Linked DNA regions of Homo sapiens. The protein of the gene in region 2 purifies or fractionates together with the protein of the main gene of each other region. This does not show direct contact. Each region holds a gene or a part of one and is shown on either strand. Other genes may lie near its edges. The genes, in order: LRRC8D and OR2H2.

Region 1 (4,599 bases), on a different chromosome or scaffold from region 2:
CATGCCCAGATAATTTTTGTGTCTTTAGTAGAGACGGGTTTTCACCATGTTGGTCAGGCTGGTCTCTAACTCCTGACCTCGTGATCCTCTTGCCTCGGCCTCCCAAGGTACCGGGACTACAGGCGTGAGCCACTGCACCCGGCCTATAATTTTTTTTTTTTTTTACAAACAGCAAAACATTCCATATTCATTATAATAGTGGGCTGTTTTCAATAAAAATATCACACCACTAGTTGTTAAGTTTTAAAAGACCTCTCATCTCTTAGATCAGCAAATCTGACACTGATTAGATCACTTACACACACTCCCTGCCCATACACCTCCTTCTTGGCAGTGTGTGGAACAGGAGTGGCTGCTGGCAAGGAGGGTCGGGGAAGGAAAGTGAGAGCAAAAGGGCCGAGGGCTCAGAATCTGGTGGCATCTTGTAACGGGTCTCGGGCAGTCCCTTGAGTGTATTCTGGACCTCTCTGTTCATGTTCCTGTTTGGGCTGCTCTTCTTCACGTCCAATGCCTGAGGGCCAAGTGCTCACCATCCAAGGGTCAATTCTATCAGCTCCTCTCTGAATCCTTTTCTGAAACCCTGGACAATCATTCTCTTTAATGTCTCACTGTCTCTGAACCGACACCTTCCTGAGTACCTGTAACATTTGTGCAGCATGCTTATTAAGAATATTTAGATGCTGGGTAAACGTTGATTGAACATTTGCTGACATGGAGAGATATTGGTAGAAGACAGATTAGACTTCCGATGGTTTACAGAAACACATGGATTCAGATAAAAGAAGATATGAAAGCACTGGGTTGAACCACATATTTTATTACAACCAAATAACTCCAAATATCCCGCCTTAATTTATTTATTGGCCCCTGCCTCTGCTCACCCACAAAAAAGACTGCAAATGAACCCCGATCCTACAACAACAACAACAAAAAACGGTGACATTATCGGGCTGCAAAACCCTCTTAGCATAGAATAATCTTTTCATCTGCCTCTTTCAGATGTAACATATTTTTGACGAAAAGAATGGGATGAAAACGGCGGGCTCAGATAAAAACAAGAACCGACTTTCCAATACAGCTTCAATAACAGACGGAACACATGAAGCTGAGAAACTCTCCATGCCAAGTAGTAGTTGTGTGTGCCCCAAAGCTCAGATAAGTACTTCTCCTTAGAGTTGGAAGGCACTTAAGTGACTTTTTAACGTAATTCAACTCCCCACCCCCAGCGCCAAGTCTTAATATCAGAGTTTTAGTCGACGGGACAGCCTCCTTCGCCCAGGACGGGTGAAGGCTCCTGACCATGCCTCGCAGCTAACTGGCAGCTGCGCCTGCCCGGCACCGAGCCCTGCCCAGGTGGACGCTTGCGAGAGCATTACGGCGATGGTTATGTAGGCTGCCGTTCTTCCCCTCCCAAGCACCTGCTCCGCATCTAGCAGTCGCTCGCCGCCAGTCTCCAACCCCGGGTCCCCTCCCTCGCCACACAGACCCCGTCCGGTCAGGCGCTGCAGGGCCACCGGAGAAAGCGCTCGCAATCACATGGAGGCCCGGGCCCGCCCCATTGGCTGCGGCCGGGCCAGTCGCGGCACTCGCCGGCTGCGGTTGGTCCCAGAGCTGCAGCGCCTGCACGGGCCCGGAGTCCATGTTACGCTTTGTCTAATTCCCCTCGTTACAGAGTCATGTGCTGCTGCTCCCGTCGCCGCTGCTGCCGCTGCCGCTGCCGCCGCCCGTGGTGCCCCGGCTCCTCCGCCGCGCTTCGAGGTGGCAGCCGCGGGCGGGGCCGCGGGAGCAGGGTCCAGGGTGCAGCGCGCCTTCGCCGCCCCGGCGCGTCCCGGTGCAGCCGCCGCCCGCCGCGGGTGATGCCGCCACCTCCGGCCTCAGCATAAGCCGTGGCTTGGCGGCCGAGCTGCACCCCAAGGTTGGTGCGCACCTCTCCCGGCAGGGGCCGGGGGCTGCGAGGGAAGGCGACGCGCAGGTGGAGCCGCGCCGAGCCGGAGCGCGCAACCCTGGCGCAGGCGCCGCGGCCCGAGCTGCGGTTGCGGCCGGGAACTCATTCGGGGACGTCCGGGGGTCGGGAGGAGGTGGCGGCGAGCGGAGTGGGCTCCCGTTTGCTGCCGCCAGGGCCTGGGAGATTGTTCCGCTTTCTGCAGTCTGAGCGTCGGCCGCTTCGGCCCCGGGCGGCCGGCCCTGCGGGAGGGGAGTGCGGCTTCCTGGCTCCTGAACCCCTCGCGCGCGCTCCCTTCTCTCACCTCCCTCCGCCCTATCGGAAAGGCGGGGAGAGCCGGTTTCGGCTCTGCTGGTTCCTCCCGGAGGTGGGTGTTTGGTGTCTGGCCTTGCTGGCCCGGCGTCCAAAGGTGAGCCCTTTAACTTCTCCAGAATCGCCTCCCCTCCGCTTCCTTCCTGTGCAGGGTGGGCTGCGCTGGGAGCCCGGCGGGCGGGGGCGGGGAGGTGAAGGCCCGCGCCCCGCCCCCCGCGCCTGTGGGAGGGAGCTGGGGGCCCGCAGGTGCACCCAGCCGTCCGCGGGCCGTCTCCGGGTTGGGTACCGGTATAATCCGCTTCTAGCTTGTTTGGAGGCGTGGGCTCTTGGGAGCGGGACTTCTGCTCAAATCCTGTCCAGGGGCTTGAAAAGGAGGAGAATTGGGGGTGGTTGCCGGGAGGACCAGCACCTCCAGTTACTGGAGGGTTGATAGGGGCCTTCTCCTTTCCGTCACCCTTTACTAGGGGGTATCCCTTGCAGATAAATGAGATTTTTTGATTTCTTAAAAAGCCAGCTGCAGTGAAGAAGAACTGCTGCAGGTCGAGGGGAAGAGAGGTAGGTCCTTGCTGGAGAGGGAGAGGTGGGCTGTGAGGTTCCAGGAGCACGCACTTGGGGTGTGTGTGGCCGAAAGTATGGAGGTAGGGTTGTGGGAAGGAAACAGCCGAGATGAGAGGGAGGGCGCACTCAGGATGTAGGCGGAGAGATGGGGAATAGGTACTGGGGAGTCCTAGCGGAATGTGGGGCCCAGCTGGAGCCGCTTGGCTTATATTTGGCTCCTCGTTGCCTCGCAGATTTCCTGCTCTTGGATCTTCAAAAATATTTTTTTGTTGGACAAAGAAAACTCTGAGGACATATTTTGGAAGAGCTGATTTCTGGAAACTTTCCTTGGCAGCTTTGATAGTAAAATTCCGTACAGGCAGCGTTTATTGAGCACCTATTACGTGGTTTGTACCGGACTTTGGAAGAGTCTGGACAGGCAGGGAATCCCCGTTTGCAGTAATGATGAGGGCTGTCTACCTTATAAACAAATAAGGGGCCCCTCCCAGTGCCAAGAATGAGAGTGATCAGACCTTCCTCGCCATAGCATCTGGGACCTCTGCTTCTTACAGACCTGTGGGAAGAACCCTGCACCATATCCTGTAAATGGGGTCCTCAGGCAGCATTTATTTTTGCAGTCCAAAAATAGTGACCAAACACCTACTGTCAGCTAGGCGAGAGTTGGGGTTCTTGCTTCATCTGTCTTGACACCAACTAACTAAATCCCTGTTAAAATCCAAGTGCAAGATGGGGAGGAATCTGAGATGAAAATTAGGTGGTTAAAACAGGGGTCACGAAAAGTTGATTTGGGGTGTTTGGTCTCTGTAGGTTACTTATGGAGCCCCCCATAAAATGATTAGGTAATCTATGGAGCCAGGGAAAAATTCCAAAATCTTGAATTGGCACAGTTTATTTATATATTTGAACACTATGTTAGATTTGTCTCGTTTTTATTGAGAGTGTATGTGTGCGTGTTGATTAAAACCTAACAGATTAGAAGGTTGGAGAGGAAACTGTCCTTAGATGACCCAGCCTTCCATTACCATGTGGAGTAGCATATGATGCAACACTTAAAGTATTGAGCCATATTCATATCATTTTCTCCCTGCTGTGTTTTCCAGCATTTAAAAAACATGGTCAAAACTTGGCCCTTTTTTTCTCAAAATCGCTAAAGTTTAATGGAAAGAAAAAAGAAAAAAACTAGGCCCCTTTTCCCTTAATTTTTATATTATGCAGCATTTTTAAAAATTAATTTTAGAAAATTCTGATGTGTTTGTCATGTCCAAATAGTTAAATTGTTTTGGTAGCTATAGTTTGGAAATTAGACTCGATTCTGTTCTCAGTACTGTAGACAAAATAGCTATTAAAGTCAAAAGTTTGTCAAAACTTTGTAATCATGATTATTATGTTGTTGAAGTGGTAGCTTGTAAGAGATTTCAGTTATTTTTAATTGGAGCTGGTGTTTGACATTCTAAGAAACACCAGTTAATATTTGTTGAGTGCCAGCAGGAAGCAGAGAACTGGAGTGGGTGCTGTGGGATCTTAACAAGGCAGGAGAGGATTCTCGTAGTAATCACAGAGAGCAGATAAGACAGGCACACATGAGGATGCCAGCAGAAGCAGACAGTTACAGTTGTCTAAGAATCCAGGGTGTGTGGAACCAGATAAAAGTTTATGAAGTATGCTGAGGGAGGAGTGGAAATCTGAATTGACTTTTGACAGTGGTCAGGGATGTGGAACAGAATATACGACTAATAAAGGAGGGTAGAGGGAACCTAGTTCGTGAAAAACTTAACCACAAGTCAGTG
Region 2 (4,236 bases):
GACAACCACGAAGAGAGTCCTTTCCAGCCCTGGGTGTTCAGAGAAGCCCAGAAGGAGGAAGCCCGGTGTGGAGCTTTGGTTAACCATGGCCTGTTCTTGTTTGTACCTGGAGGGATGAGGCTGTCACTCCAGTGTGATTCAACCTGTCTTATCAAAACTCAGCCTGGGTGTTTGTGAGGTCACAGCAGGTAGGTGTTTCTCTTCTGTCTCTGCTCGCCCAGCCTCCCTTTCCAAGGCTCATCACCATCCAGCAGCTCCTTCTCATTCCCTGTTCTTCCTGGTCAAACATTGTCTAGTGAGAGTGAGGAATCCATGAATGTACTGGACAGCAGATGGATACTCACACTGGTGCCTCTGACTTCCTGGGTGAGGGCAAAGGAGGCTGATTAAAATATGCACTAATTCATTAATTCATTCATTCAGGGGAAATTTATTGAGTGCCACTATGTTCTGAATGCTGTTCTAGAGTTGTCTCTTATCTATTGGATGATCTCGTAAGGTATATTGAATGAATTTTCTGATAAGTTGTCTCTGTAGGCTCAATTATTGCTCTATTGGTTGAATGAATTTTATAGAACTCTGTACATTCCATTTATTTTGTATTTTTTCATTTGCAAGTAAGCTTATCAGAGACAGTGTTTTATCTATGAGAGAGATTTTGTTTTGTTTTAAGATATCCCTACTTATAGAGAGATCAGGTTGGTTGCCCTGGCCTTTTTAGCAACCTAAGTTTCTGAACCAACTGACTTTCAGGGAGGGGTGGAAATTGGTCCACATGCTTCGTCCTTGCCATGAGTAGCTTACAAGTAGGAGGCAAGAGTGGCCACAAGCATGTTAAAATCACCAGGGTTCACAGGAACATTATCGAAAGACTCCAAGAATCACTCTCCCTAAATCTTGTAGTCTTTCAGACACCACCAAAAAGAGAGTCCAAAATTTAAAGGCCAGTAACACCAATGTACTGGGTGAATGAGAGTAAAGGTTCTGTAGGATGACTGACCAATTTGGTTGGGTATATCAGGGAAAGCTTCCTAGAGGAGGTGACTGGACTTTTTCCTTAAAATAGAGATGTATTGGGGCATAGAAGGTCAGTTGAGGGCTGGGGGTGGGAGACTGAAGCCACTCTGGCAGGTCAGAGACAAGGACTCAGGGTCTTACAGGACCTTAGGAAGGCCATGAGGGGAGGAGATGAGATGGTGGGCCACACCACAAACGTGCCATGGAGCTCAGAGGATGGCAGGAATGTCTTCCTCTTACAGGGTCCCCATCTTGTATTAAGCTCTATCACATCTCCCTTTTTGCCAGGACTCTCTGCCATTGTCTCTGTCTTCTTCCTGTTTTTCCCATTATTCTTTTCTCACTTAAAATATATTTTTAATTTTCAAAATATTGTTACATATTTAAACAACTAGGTTAAGGAACTGAGCAAATGTTTCAAGTATCTTAGAAGCTTCTGTGTGCCCCTCCCTGATCTCTCAATTTTCTCAATTTGTCACCCCTCAAGATGTCACCACCATTCTAATTTTTTTTTTTTTTTTTTTTTTTTAGAGTCACGTTTTATAGCCCAGGCTGGAGTGCAATGGCACGATCTCTGCTCACTGCAACTTCCACCTCCTGGGCTCAAGCTATTCTCCTGCCTCAGCCTCCCAAGTAGCGGGGATTACAGGCACTCAAGACCATGCCTAGCTAATTTTTGTATTTTTAGTAGAGACGGGGTTTCGCCATGTTGGCCAGGCTGGTCTCAGACTCCTGACCTCAGGTGATCTGCCTGCCTCGGCCTCCCAAAGTGCTGGGATTACAGGCATGAGTCACTGTGCCTGGCCTCTAAATTTTTAATTATGCCTTCGCTTTCATTTTTTGAGATGTATTTAACGTACCATAAAATTCGCCCTTTTGAAGTGTGTAATTTAGTGGTTTAAAGTATATTCACAAGTTGTGCAACCAACACCATTTACTTCCAGAATATTTCATTACTCCCAAAAGAAACCTCATGCTCATTGGCTGCCGCCCCCTCCTTTGTTTTCTTTGTAATATAAAATTCTTTGCATGTAACCTTAAACAATAGCCAATTGTTTCTTATTTATCCATCATGTGTCATCCTAATTAATTTTCTACATTTCTAACTTTGTCATTATCTTGGCATTTCATTCCTTTCCTTTCTCTGCTATATCGCTGAATCTCTTTAGATTACACCTTTCTTAGTGACTGTTTCCCTTTCCCTCTTTGTTCTCTGTCTTTTCCACTCTCATTATTTTTCTCCTACTCCTTTTCCTTCTGAAATATTCATGCATTGGTCTACGCATTTATTCATTTCTTGAGCCCCAAAGTGCCAGCATTGTGTTAGGAGCTGGGGAAGGAGTTGGGAGGTCCTTTGAAAGGGGTTTATGATAGTCTAGTGACCATGAGCTACCCTTGCTGTTAGTAGCTACCATCAAAGCATGGTGATAAACAACTCCCTGAACATCTGGTTCTCACAGTGACCCTACAAAGAGATAAAATTATCCCAATTTTACCAAAAAGTGAACAGTCACAGACGGGACAAGAGACTTGTAGAAGGTTACCTAGTCAATAAGTGCTAGGACTAGGATTTTAGAGTAAGTTTAACTCCAAATCTGGTCCTCCAGTGTTGAGGATAGGCGGAAACTGATATCTCACAGCCAAAGAGCAAAGGTTCTGCTTACCTTCAATCAAATAAAAATCTCTTCTGGTACCAGCAATTCCCCATGACAGAGCTCTTAACTGGTGCCCAGCCTCCACTTGTACATCAGGAAGAAACAAAAAAATAAAAAGGAATGGGCATCCTTGAATGGGCAACTGCATCTCTGGTCACAATAGGGATTGCTAATGCTGACCATCTGGCACTTTTCTAAGCACACATGTGTGTGATGAGCTGGAGCTGGCTCAGATTATCTCTTGATTAGTAAATTTTTAGGAATTTTGTGAGACAGTTATTAAACCATCAGTGGCTTGAGACAGCCATGGCAGGAATATTTACACTATGAAAATTGGCAAACACTACAAATTAGGGCTCTCCCCATCTGCCACCAACCAAGTTGTTTATTAAACATTTACTCTACACTGCTGATTATCCTTCACAACTCTACATATTATTCTCTTCCTTCCAATATGAAGAAGTTGAAACAAAGAAATATAAATAACTTTCCCAAGGCAGTATAGTTAGTAAGCACCAGAGCTGATGTTTGAACCCAAATCTGCTAACTGTAGAGGGTTTGCACCAACCAAAGCCCACCAAATCTCTGCAGGGAGGATGAAGCCAAGGTCAGAACTTTGCCATTGAGTTCTTTGCCATCGAGTTCTTTGCCATCGAGTTCTTTGCCATTGAGTTCTTTGCCAACAATTTTCCCCCTCAGTCTAGGCAGAGGTGTGCCTCTGTTTTAGTGGCATTGGAGGTAGAAATGTTGACATGGTATGGTGGTAGAGGGATCCCACGGAGGGAAAGAGCTCATTAATTCTGCTGAGACTCTAGGGTCCATAGCCCACAGACAATTCATTAGCCACAAATTATGGTAAAAGGGGCAGGGGAATATCTATAGGAAATATGCCAACAATAGTCATCACTGTGGTAGGTAAAAGAGGTCACTCATTGCTTCTTTCTGTCAACAGGAAGAAAAAGGACAGTGTCTCTACTCCCACCTCCAGTGAGTCCCGGGCATCCTGATAGTCCTCTCAGGCTTATGATTCATCTATTCAGGACCTCAGTTTTTAAAGTTCTCAGCTTCCTCCTTTTCTATTTAGTTATTCTGAGATGGAGCACACTGTAGTAACAGAGAATTATAAAGCTCTGGGTTTGGAGAGTACTTAGAACATTTAGCCAATCTTCATATAACTGAATCGTTATGCTTCTCTTCCATTAGAAAGGGAGCCTATGAGATCAGCTAATAAATGGCATGTACTAGGTCCATGGATCTACCCAGTAGTCATTTCTGCAGTCTCTAAATCTGTAACTGGAATGCACATGCTTGGCCATTGGCAGAATCCCCACATAGTTCTTTAGTCTGTGGAGTACGAGCTACAGATTGAAGTGGAAGCCCTGAATCTACACCTCTTACCGCAAAGACAGTGAATCAAGAACAATATCACAATTCAAGGGAAATGGCTGATTGAGGCCACCTTTAAAGGGTGCGGGGGTTTGTTTCTATCATATTTCACATTTAATTCACCAGTCTGGTCACTACAAATATCAGATGCAACTTGAAAGATGACCAGACTAGCACA

What was found.
Region 1: the proteins of OR2H2 (region 2) and LRRC8D purify together in Homo sapiens (affinity purification with mass spectrometry; one large-scale study listed by BioGRID and IntAct). This does not show direct contact.

The regions. Positions count from the first base shown.
Region 1 is NC_000001.11:89,819,377-89,823,975, forward strand, and holds the start of LRRC8D (volume-regulated anion channel subunit LRRC8D), read left to right. Parts: upstream 1-1,655; 5' UTR 1,656-1,915; exon of another isoform or gene 1,916-2,418; intron 2,419-2,562; exon of another isoform or gene 2,563-2,809; intron 2,810-4,599. UniProt on the Homo sapiens protein: Non-essential component of the volume-regulated anion channel (VRAC, also named VSOAC channel), an anion channel required to maintain a constant cell volume in response to extracellular or intracellular osmotic changes.
Region 2 is NC_000006.12:29,583,796-29,588,031, reverse strand, and holds the start of OR2H2 (olfactory receptor 2H2), read right to left. Parts: upstream 2,912-4,236; 5' UTR 2,682-2,911; intron 363-2,681; 5' UTR 88-362; coding exon 1-87. UniProt on the Homo sapiens protein: Odorant receptor.